2 linked regions of the Homo sapiens genome follow. The protein of the gene in region 2 purifies or fractionates together with the protein of the main gene of each other region. This does not show direct contact. Each region holds a gene or a part of one and is shown on either strand. Other genes may lie near its edges.

Region 1 (3,554 bases), on a different chromosome or scaffold from region 2:
GGACAGGCAGTCCGCGGTCTCTGGACAATCAACTCAAGGTACGCCCACTGCAAGGCCTCCCTCCCACCGCGGCCCCTGCCTGGCCACCTGGCCTCTCTGCACCAGGGTGACAAGGGGTCCTCGTCTGCCCCCCAATGCTCCAGGGCCAGTCCTAAGGAGCTGAGGGTCTGAGGACGCAGGGAGGGTGGAGGTGTCCTGAGGCTGATGGACAGTGACCGCCACTGGCCCCCAACATGACCACACGTGGGTGCTGAACTCGGGGCGCCGTGCCCACCGGCATGGTCCTCCCGAGCTCCGACAGCATTACCTCACCCGGCCCCATCTGTTGCCCCGGTCCAGCCCTGATGGCGCGCGCCTGGTCTGTCTGATTCCCCTAGCCGCCACCCCACGTTTCTGTACCGGGTCTCTGCAGTGTTAAACGGACGTGTAAATAGTGGTAAATAGTGAAAGCCTGTCCTTCCCTAAATGTAAAGCCATCTGTCCGGCGTAAGGACGACACCGTCAGCTGTCCGACTCGCACACATTTAATAAACTGAGCTCTTGCATTGCCTGCCGCCATCACCTCTTCCTCAAAATGGGCTGTGGGCGGGTAGGTTCATCGCTGTCTATGTGCTGCCACAGAATTGCTGAGACCCCCCAGGTTAGATCCCTGGAAGCAGAGCCAGAAAGCAGAAACTGGGGGCACAGGGTTTGTGGGCACCCCACCCAGATGGGCCGGGGAGGCACTGGCTGAGGCCAGGAGTCTCCCCCTGGTCCCAAGGGAGGGCAGGCTCCAGGGGGTGCACAGCACCCCAGACAGGGGGTCCAACCTGGGCATTGGTACCTGGGCCAGTTATTATGGCAGGCCCCAGTGTGGGGCAGGAGGCACCCATGAGCCACTAGGAGCTGTGGCTGGTGCAACAGCTGGGATGGGGCAGCCACAGCAGCCACTACCGGGGAGAGTCAATGGTGGACAGGGGCTGCGGGAGCTGGGACGGCCCCACGTCAAAGCCACTTCAGGGAGCACAGCCCTGGCCCAGCTGGGGGGACAAGGAAAGCTATGACTGCAAGCAGCACAGAAGTGCAGGGTGGGAAGGGATGGCAGGAGCCGGCCCCCTCCCCACCTTCCACCCTGGGACACTGCCGGGACCTCCCTCGGCCAGGTGAGCAGCTTCAGAAGCATGACCAGTGAGAAGTCCCTAGGGCCCAGGCCGGGCTAGCCAAGTCCCAGTTTCTGGATGAGGCGCCTCCCAGGCTGTGTGTGGCAGGCCCCCTTTCTTCAGGGAATAAGAAACATCTTCCACATTCAAGAAACAAAGCTGGCTGTGGGTCTGGAGAGAGGGTGAGGCAGCCCCAGGTCTCTGGGTCAGGCGGACGGTCCCTGCATGCAGTGCCCGGCAGGACTGAGCAGGGTTCCCGGGGTCGCCGGTACCCATCCCTCCCCAGCTTCCGGGGCCCCGGGACGGAGCCGCTCACAGAGGCACCATTCAGACGGCCAGACACACACGAAAGCTTTATGTGCAGGGCCCAGCCTCTGGGCCGCCTTGCCCAGGTTTCCACTCAAGTTGCTATTTAGGATGAAAAGCCTTTGGCAAGACCCTCCGCCGCACTAACGCCCCCTCCCCCAGGGCCAGAACCCGCAGGGAAGCAGGCCCAGGACCTGCTGCAGCTGGCAGGGTGGCTATGAGACTCAGGACACCCTGGGCTCCTGGCCAGTGACTCACAGCGGTCCTCCAGCAAGGGCAGTGGCTGGGAGACACCCGTGCCGTGGAGCTAGGCCCAGCCTGGCTGGGTCTCAGGGCTGCTTCTCTTGGGTGACCCCAGCGGCCCAGGGTCGTTGTGAAGATCAACGTGGCTTGTGGGAGGAGCCCGGGGCCCAGAAGGAAGTGGGGTCAGGGGCTCAGGCTGGCCCTCGGGCTGCTCTGACATTGGGTGGGCACTCGCTGGATGGAATCACAGTTAACACCTCGATCCCAACACCTGGACTCAGAAGTGGACAGGCGAGTGCCTGCCCCGGGAGAGGAAGGAGGTGGCACCTGCTCCCAGGGGCCCCACTGCAGAGCACGGCCACTGTGAGCTGACGACAGAATCACAGTACAGCAATAATGTCCCTATCCTCTTCCAGAACCCCAGTGGGGCCCTCAGGTCACGCAGGACGGAGCCAGCTGGGTGGGTCCCACCAACTCGGCATGAATGAGACGACGGATGAACCGCAGCCCCAGCATCAGGAGGGGCGCCTGTGTCAACACCCACGTGGGCTGGGACCCCGTGAATGCCAGTCTGGGGCCGACGGACCCCCAGGGAAAGCCTGGGTGCAGGCCACCTTGTGCGCTGCCCAAGCCTGCAGGCCCCGAGAGGTCAGCCTGAGGAGGCAGCCTCGGCTGCCGGTAATGCTGCCTGCTTCATCTGGGCCACCTCCCGCTCCAGGTCCTCGCCGGCTCGCTGCAGGAGCTCACACCTCTGCCTCAGCACGTTGCCCGCCTGCTGCAGCCGCTGGTTGGCAGCCACGTAGGCCCGGCTTTGCTGGTAGAGCTGCTCTCCCGGGGCCTCCGCATCCTCCATCATCCTGAAGGGAACTGGGGGGTCTGAGACAGGACACAGCAGCATCACTGCCTGCTGACCACCCCATCCTCCTGGGCACCCCTCACTACTGCCCCCAAAGGGCAGGGTTCCCTGCAGTCCCCGAGTGAGCTTGCCAGCCGGGGTCTTCTTAACATGACGGATGCAGCCAGGTGTGGTGGCTCACGCCTGTAATCCAGCACTTTGGGAGGCCGAGGCGGGAGGAACACTTGAGCCCAAGAGTTAGAGACCAGCCTGGACAACATAGTGACACCCCCATCTCTACCAAAAAATACAAATACAAAAATTAGCTGGGCGTGGTAGCACGCATCTGTGGTCCCTACTTCTCTGGAGGCAGAGGCAGGAGGATCGCTTGAGACTGGGAGGCCGAGGCTGCAATAAGCTATGATCGTGCCACGGTACTCCAGCCTGGGTGACAGAATGAGACCCTGTCTCAAAAATAAATAAAAACAAAAATCAAGTAATGGAGGCTTCCTCGTCCATCAGCTGGGAGAGGCACAGTGGCTGGGTGGCAGGAGGGGCTTCCAGCTCTAGGCTACCCGCCTTAGCAAAGCGTGTGACCAGGGGGATCGGGTCACAGAAAGAGCTCAAGCCTCGCCAGCAGTGGCCCTCCTGGGGGCGGGGCTTCCATTCCTGCAAAAGCCGTGGCACCCACCGGGATGGACTCCACTGAGCTGGCCTGGCTCTCATTCCTGCTGTCTCTGGAAGCCAGAGACGCAACAAGCCCGCCACCGAAAACCTCTCCAGGGGCCGTGCAACCTCCTGGAGCACACACTTAGGGAGGCAGGGGTGGCGAAGGTGAGAGGTGGGCATTGACGTCCTGGTGACTCCCACATTCAGCAGAAACTACGTATGGCTCCCTGCTCCCCCACGTATGCAAGCCCAGTGCAGCAGGGCTGAAGCAGCACCGACTTCAGGGTCACTCAGAGAAGCGTCAGGGGCCCCTCGGCTCTGGCCTGCCCCTCGGCAGTGTGGTCTCCCACGGACGAAGGCTC
Region 2 (7,039 bases):
ATGAACAGACACTTCTCAAAAGAAGACATTTATGCAGCCATAAGACACATGAAAAAATGGTCATCATCACTGGCCATCGGAGAAATGCAAATCAAAACCACAATGAGATACCATCTCACACCAGTTAGAATGGCGATCATTAAAAAGTCAGGAAACAACAGGTGCTGGAAAGGATGTGGAGAAATAGGAACACTTTTACACTGTTGGCACTGTAAACTAGTGCAACCATTGTGGAAGTTGGTGTGGCAATTCCTCAGGGATCTAGAACTAGAAATACCATTTGACCCAGCCATCCCATTACTGGGTATATACCCAAAGGATTAGAAATCATGCCGCTATAAAGACACATGCACACGTATGTTTATTGCAGCACTATTCACAATAGCAAAGACTTGGAACCAACCCAAATGTCCAACAATGATAGACTGGATTAAGAAAATGTGGCACATACACACCATGGAACACTATGCAGCCATAAAAAAGGATGAGCTCATGTCCTTTGTAAGGACATGGATGAAGCTGGAAACCATCATTCTCAGCAAACTATCGCAAGGACAAAAAACCAAACACCGCATGTTCTCACTCATAGGTGGGAATTGAAAAATGAGAATACATGGACACAGGAAGGGGAACATCACATACCGGGGCCTGTTGTGGGGTGGGGGGAAGGGGAGAGGGATAGCATTAGGAGATATACCTAATGTTAAATGACGTGAGTTAATGGGTGCAGCACATCAACGTGGCACATGTATACATATGTAACTAACCTGCACGTTGTGCACATGTACCCTAAAACTTAAAGTATAATTAAAAAAAAATAGAACCTTGAGAGAAAAAAGCAAGCTATTTAGGGATATTTATAGTATAATATCACTTATGTAAAATTAAAACCCATAGCATAAATGCTCTATATTATTTATGAGAAAGCAAACATCTAATAAAAATATAAAAACAGTGAATTGAGCTTGTAATTATCTCTAGGGAAAGAAAAAGGAAAATCAGATTAGAGATGGTTATATAGTATCAAAAATGCTTCAACTTTATCTCTAGTTTTATTTCTTTAATGAAAAAGGATCCATGATAAATATGAAAATAATGATAAATCATATTGAGTCTATGTGGAAAGTTTACAGATACTTGCCATTTTATGTACATTTATGCTTCACAATCCTCTGTCCTTTTTAAAGTACTGTATAATTTTTAAAAATACTTCATAATTTTAAAAAACACATACTACATATTTTTTTAAAAGTTTCCCATGAAAATATTTCATCAGTCATGAAAAGTTCCTATCCCACATACAAATATCTGTATAAACACTACAAATGGAGATCACTTCCTTCATTTTTTACTAAACGCCATTTTAAGACACATGCTATATGTTGCTTAAGGACTAGAAACTAGGTAATGTCAGAAGAAATGTAAATAGCGATAATATGTTACAGAAAAAGTAGCAAGGATCAAATAAAGATGCCATGAAGAGCAAGAAAGGTCCAAATGGCATAAAATTGAAAGAGGTGTCCAGAGGTTAGTCCAATGCTCAAAAAACATCCTTGGTATTAAATGAGAAGCCAAAGATGTTACTGTCAAAATTTTTTTTTAAACAGGTGTGAAAAAAGTTTCTACTTGAATTTTAACTAGGGGGCACTTAGAGAATATGAAGCAGGGCACATGTCAACAATATGATTTATTACTAAGGCTATAATAAATGTCAAGGTTTTTCTCTGGAAGTCAAAACATTAATTATTAAGATCCCACGAGGTTCCCATAGCAACATACCTGAAGAAGGAGCCTTTCAAAAGCCAGAAAGTTGTCCCACTTGGCAGTCTGTGGGTGTTTCAACGTTTGAGCTGTGGCCAGTCCAAGCTGGAGGAGGCCACAATGATTCATTAGAGCTTTGAGGTTGTTCTTGAAGAGCTGAATATAGGACATGAGCTGTCCCGGTGTGACTCTCCCTGGAAACATAAGAATTTATCAGTGTACCCCCTTCTGGGAATAGTACAAATAATGAGAAGGATTCCATTAATAATACCACTGTCTTGTATTTGGGCAGAACTTCAGAGCTGACTGCAAGCTTTCCTAAGCTATTGTGATTCTTACAACTATATAGTGACAAGAGCAAAACTGGTCCTATTATTAATACCTGCATTTTGCAAGTAAGGAAACAGGGATGCTAATTAAGGGATCTGGCCAAGGTCATGTTGCCAGTAGAATTCATTTTATCATTATGTAATACTCTGTAAATAAATTTTCAAATAAAGTCACACAAATAAATATTTGTTGAGCTCAACTTGGAGTACCTCTTTATGACATATGACATAGCAATCTAAGAGGGAAAAAGATAAGATTTCTAATTGTGTGTGTATGTACCTAAAAGAAGATGAGAAATAGATTATTTCTCATCTAAAACTTTACCATTGATATCAGTGAGTTCATGACAATATTCGTGAGATAAAAGCAGTTACATGGAACAAAAATGTATCAAGAACTACAGTGCAAAACCACTGGAAGAGGAGGTATCAGAAGAAAGGGTTGGTGTGGGGAACAGCACATTTGCTACAATGGTCACCTACATTTAGAACAAGAGAGCCTACCTCATAAAAGCATAGAGACTATACAAACACTTGTACATCTACAAACACACAAACTGTTGAGGATTCACTCCTTCAGAGCCCCTAACTCCAAGTTTTGCCAATAGCTGTCTTTCCACCGAGTCTCCTCCCACTCTCCAGTCTGTAAAATTTCATTCCTGCCATTCCTCCATGCTATGCGCAAAGCTCTTGGACATCGGATTCTCCCCACCAGGCAAAAAGGCAATGGGGCCAAACATAGATGTAAGCCAAGTAATTCATTCCTATATGTTTCACCCATGCCATGTTTGTGGGTTGTTCTTTGATACTGAAATCCAAGTTTATTTGCTTGTTATAAACTTGTTATAAACTGAAATCCAAGTTATTTGCTTGTTAAGTATTTGGCAATGAAACCACCTGCATTTATTTAGCAATTTACACAGTGCTTACACAAACACACCCTTTACTGATTCTCATGGCAACTCCTTGAGGTAGAAAACGAGGCTTGTGCTGCATCTATTAGTCCTGCCTGACGTGCTAAGAAAGTAATGTCTTACCCAGTGCTAAATGGCAGATATCACTTAATAAATGGTTTTTGCTAAAAGTAAAGACCTTGCCACATGAAACTCAAAAGCCTACAACATATCTTTCTATCTTTTCATTAATTTTTTTGAAGAGATAAAGAATGTTTAAGTTCTTCATTACCAGTTTATCAGGGTAAGCATTTAAAGAAAAAGAACAGTGGGAATAAGTAGGAGGGTGAGTCTCATGAGTTTCTTTGGTCCCTTGGTAAAGCATGGGTTTGTTCCTGATTCTCAAAGCAGCAAGCTAACAATCTGCTTGCTCAAGTACTCATAGAAAAAAACCTCATTAATACTTTGTTTCTTTATCAGGTTTATTAAGGTATTTTCTACATACAGTAAAATTCAGCCTTTTCTAGTGTACAGTTCTATGAATTTTGACAAATGGATATGGTTGGATAACCACTGTCACAGTCAAAATACAGAACATTCCCATCATTCCAAACAGCTCCCCTTCTTGGTAGTCCATTCACTTTCCCTAGTTCCAGCCCTGTTGGTTGATGAACCCTTATCCGTGTTTATCTGATTTCCATCTCACAGTTTTGTCTTTCTAGAGTGTCACATAAATGGAATCACATAGTATGTAGCCATTTGAGTCTGGCTTCTTTCACTGAACCATAATGTATCTGAGATTCATCCACGTTGCTGCTTGTATTAGTAGTTTGCTCTTTTTTCTTGCTGAGTGATATTTCATTGTGTGGATGTATCATAGTTTATTTAGCCATTTATTTATCTATTCACTAGTTAATGAGTATTTGGGTTGCTTTCAATTTTTTAGAAATTATGAATAAAGCCTTCACAAACATCTGTGTACAGGTCTTTGTGTGTGTGTGTGTGTGTGTGTGTATACATATGTTTCATTTTCCTTTAGGCAAATTTCTAGGAGCAGGTTTCTAGGACAGATGTTAAGTATATGCTTACTTTTAATTTTTTTTTAATTCTTAAGCTTTATTTTATCACTCTTATCAAACATATCAGAAAGCATATCAACAGTGCATCTTATGTTAAGTTTACAACAAAATTGAACAATGTAATTGTGTTTGATGAAAAAGTTTTATAGCAAAAAAGCGTACAATACAGTCCATTGAAATGCAGGGTTCATGCTTTTTAGGTACGTTAAAAAGTGGAAAATAAAAGACCTCTGCTACTCAGCAACATCAAACAAGTTTAAAAGACTTGAGTGGAAATCAGATACTTAGGGGTTTGTGAAAAAAACTTCTTGGTACTGACCCACATATACATTTATAGTTTCATTTAGTTATTTTTTTTTAATTTTTATTTTAGGTTCAGAGGTACATGTACTGGTTTGTTATATAGGTAAACTCGTGTCATGGGGATTTGTGGTACAGAATGTTTTGTCACCGAGGTACTATGCCTAGTACCCAATAGTTATTTTTTCTGATCCTCTCCTTCCTCCCACCCTCCACCCTCAAGTAAGCTCCAATATCAGCTGTTCCCCTCTTAGTGTCCATGTGTTCCCATCATTTAGCTCCCACTTATAAGTGAGAACATGCAGTATTTAGTTTAAGCACATGTTTAATTTTATAAGAAATTGGCAAACTGATTTCCAAAGTGGGCTGTACCACCAGCAACATATGAGAGTTTTAGTTGCCTTACAACTTCACCAACACTTGGTTTTGTCAGCTATTTTTATTTTAATGATTCTAACAGATGTGTAGCAGTATCTCATTGTGGTTTAAAATTTCATTTTCCTAATGACTAATGATGTTAACCACCTTTTCATGTGTGTCTTTTGCCATCCTATATCTGTTTTGGTGAAGTGTCTGGTCAAATCTTTTGCTCATTTTTTAATTAGGTTGTTTGTTTTCTTATTACTGAGTTGTGAGTGTCATTCACTTTTATTGATTCATTGATTCAACATATATTTCTGTAACAGGCACTATTCCTGTTTCTAGGAATAAACCTGTGAACAAATCCAGACAAAAACCCCTATGCTTGTAGCCAACAAATAAAGAAAACAACTCCTTGATGATCTCCTAATTAATTCAGCCTCTTACGTGTCATTCTCTCTAAAGGGATAGGGACCTTTTGTGCAAATGATTAACATTTTTAAGAAATGATATTCTCTGACATCTATTATATTAAATATGTAAGAACAAATTTTCACACAAAATGGTTTCAAAACTTAAGATTGCCATGAGCTCCATTTATTTATATAAACACTGTACTGCAGGTGATGGCAGTGTGGCTCCTAAACACATAGAACTTAGTCTATCAAGACAAACATTCATTTAATGATCATACAAATAATTACTTAATCATGATAGTGGTAAGTACTGCCAAAGAAAAATACAAAATGTCTTGAAGGTGTGAAAGGCTCTACATGATATGAAAACTGCCTACCTCTCCAACCCCATCTCCTCAACTGAAAGAAGAGGAATTAAATAGATTCAAAATATATACAATTCATTTCTTCTATAACTATGTTTTAGAGAGACTCCAGGAAACGGGAATCACCAGAGGAAGCCATCAGAGGATCTGCTCAGATTTCTATTGTAATAACCGTATGTTCATTTTAAAGATAAAAGTGTCTTTGATTAAAAAACAGTCCAGGCTCGGCGCGGTGGCTCACGCCTGTAATCGCAGCTCTTTGGGAGGCCGAGGCGGGCAGATCACGAGGTCAGGAGATGGAGACCATCCTGGCTAACACGGTGAAACCCCGTCCCTACTAAAAATGCAAAAAAATTAGTTGGGCTTGGTGGTGGGCGCCTGTAGTCCCAGCTACTCGGGAGGCTGAGGCAGGAGAATGGCGTGAACCCGGGAGGCGGAGCTTGCAGTAAGCGGAGATCCGGCCACTGCACTCTAGCCCAGGGACAGAACGAGACTCCGTCTCAAAACAAAAAACAAAAAAAAAAAAAACAGTCCTCGCCAGGCGCAGTGGCTCACGCCTGTAATCCCAGCACTTTTGGAGGCCGAGGTGGGTGGATCACTCGAGGTCCAGGGTTGGAGACCAGCCTGACCAACAAGGTGAAACCCTGTCTCTACTAAAAATTCAAATATTAGCCGGGAGTGGTGGTGGGCACCTGTAGTTCCAGCTACTCAGGAGCTGAGGCAGGAGAATCACTTGAACCCGGGAGGTGGAGTAAGCCGAGATTGCACCACTGCATTCCAGCCTGGGAGGCAGAGAGAGACTCCATCTTAAAAAAAAAAAAAAAGAAAAAAGAAAGAGAAAAATTAGCTGGGCATGGTAGTGCTCACCTATAGTCCCAGCTACTCAGGCAGCTGAGGCAGGAGAATCACTTGAACCTGGGAAGTGGCCAAGATCGTGCCACTGCACTCCAGCCTGGGCGACAGAGTGAGACTCCATCTCAAAAAAAAAAAAAAAGTCAAATTTTTTATCCAATCAGCATTTCCTAGCTGAGACCCAGACTCAGCTACCATATTTATGTAACGTCACCTTCTCATATAAGGCATATGATCTAAAGGAACAAATGGGTATATCTCCTAACAGAAAATATCAACACCACACTACCTTGTGTTCCTTGCAGATTTAGTAGTTATTCACCTTCTCTACTCTGTTCTATTCCCCTTTGTATGTCGTTTTTTACACACTCATGACACTACTCCTTCGTTAGGTATAAATCACGACAGCAGATTTTTTTTTCCTAAAAATCCCTAAGAGGCTAACTGGAATTTAAGTTAAAAAGTAATTCACACAGATGCTCTAAAAAAAAAAAAAAAAGGCCAGTGACATTTTTAAAATTTTTAAATTTAACCATAACCTTACCAAAAGCAAATGGAAATCAACTAATTGACCATCAAAAATGCTGCAGTAAGACTAACCACTGAAGTAAAATTTCTTAGTTTATATAAACTAAAACAGCAAGCAACTAGACAAGTGTTGAAAAAGTAATGGACAGAATATTT

Evidence for each region. The genes of interacting proteins can lie anywhere in the genome.
Region 1: the proteins of SCFD2 (region 2) and C19orf25 purify together in Homo sapiens (affinity purification with mass spectrometry; 2 studies listed by BioGRID and IntAct, with this or other methods). This does not show direct contact.

The regions. Positions count from the first base shown.
Region 1 is NC_000019.10:1,472,695-1,476,248, forward strand, and holds the end of C19orf25 (UPF0449 protein C19orf25), read right to left. Parts: intron 2,565-3,554; coding exon 2,338-2,564; 3' UTR 507-2,337; downstream 1-506.
Region 2 is NC_000004.12:53,272,047-53,279,085, forward strand, and holds part of SCFD2 (sec1 family domain-containing protein 2), read right to left. Parts: intron 1,956-7,039; coding exon 1,780-1,955; intron 1-1,779. UniProt on the Homo sapiens protein: May be involved in protein transport.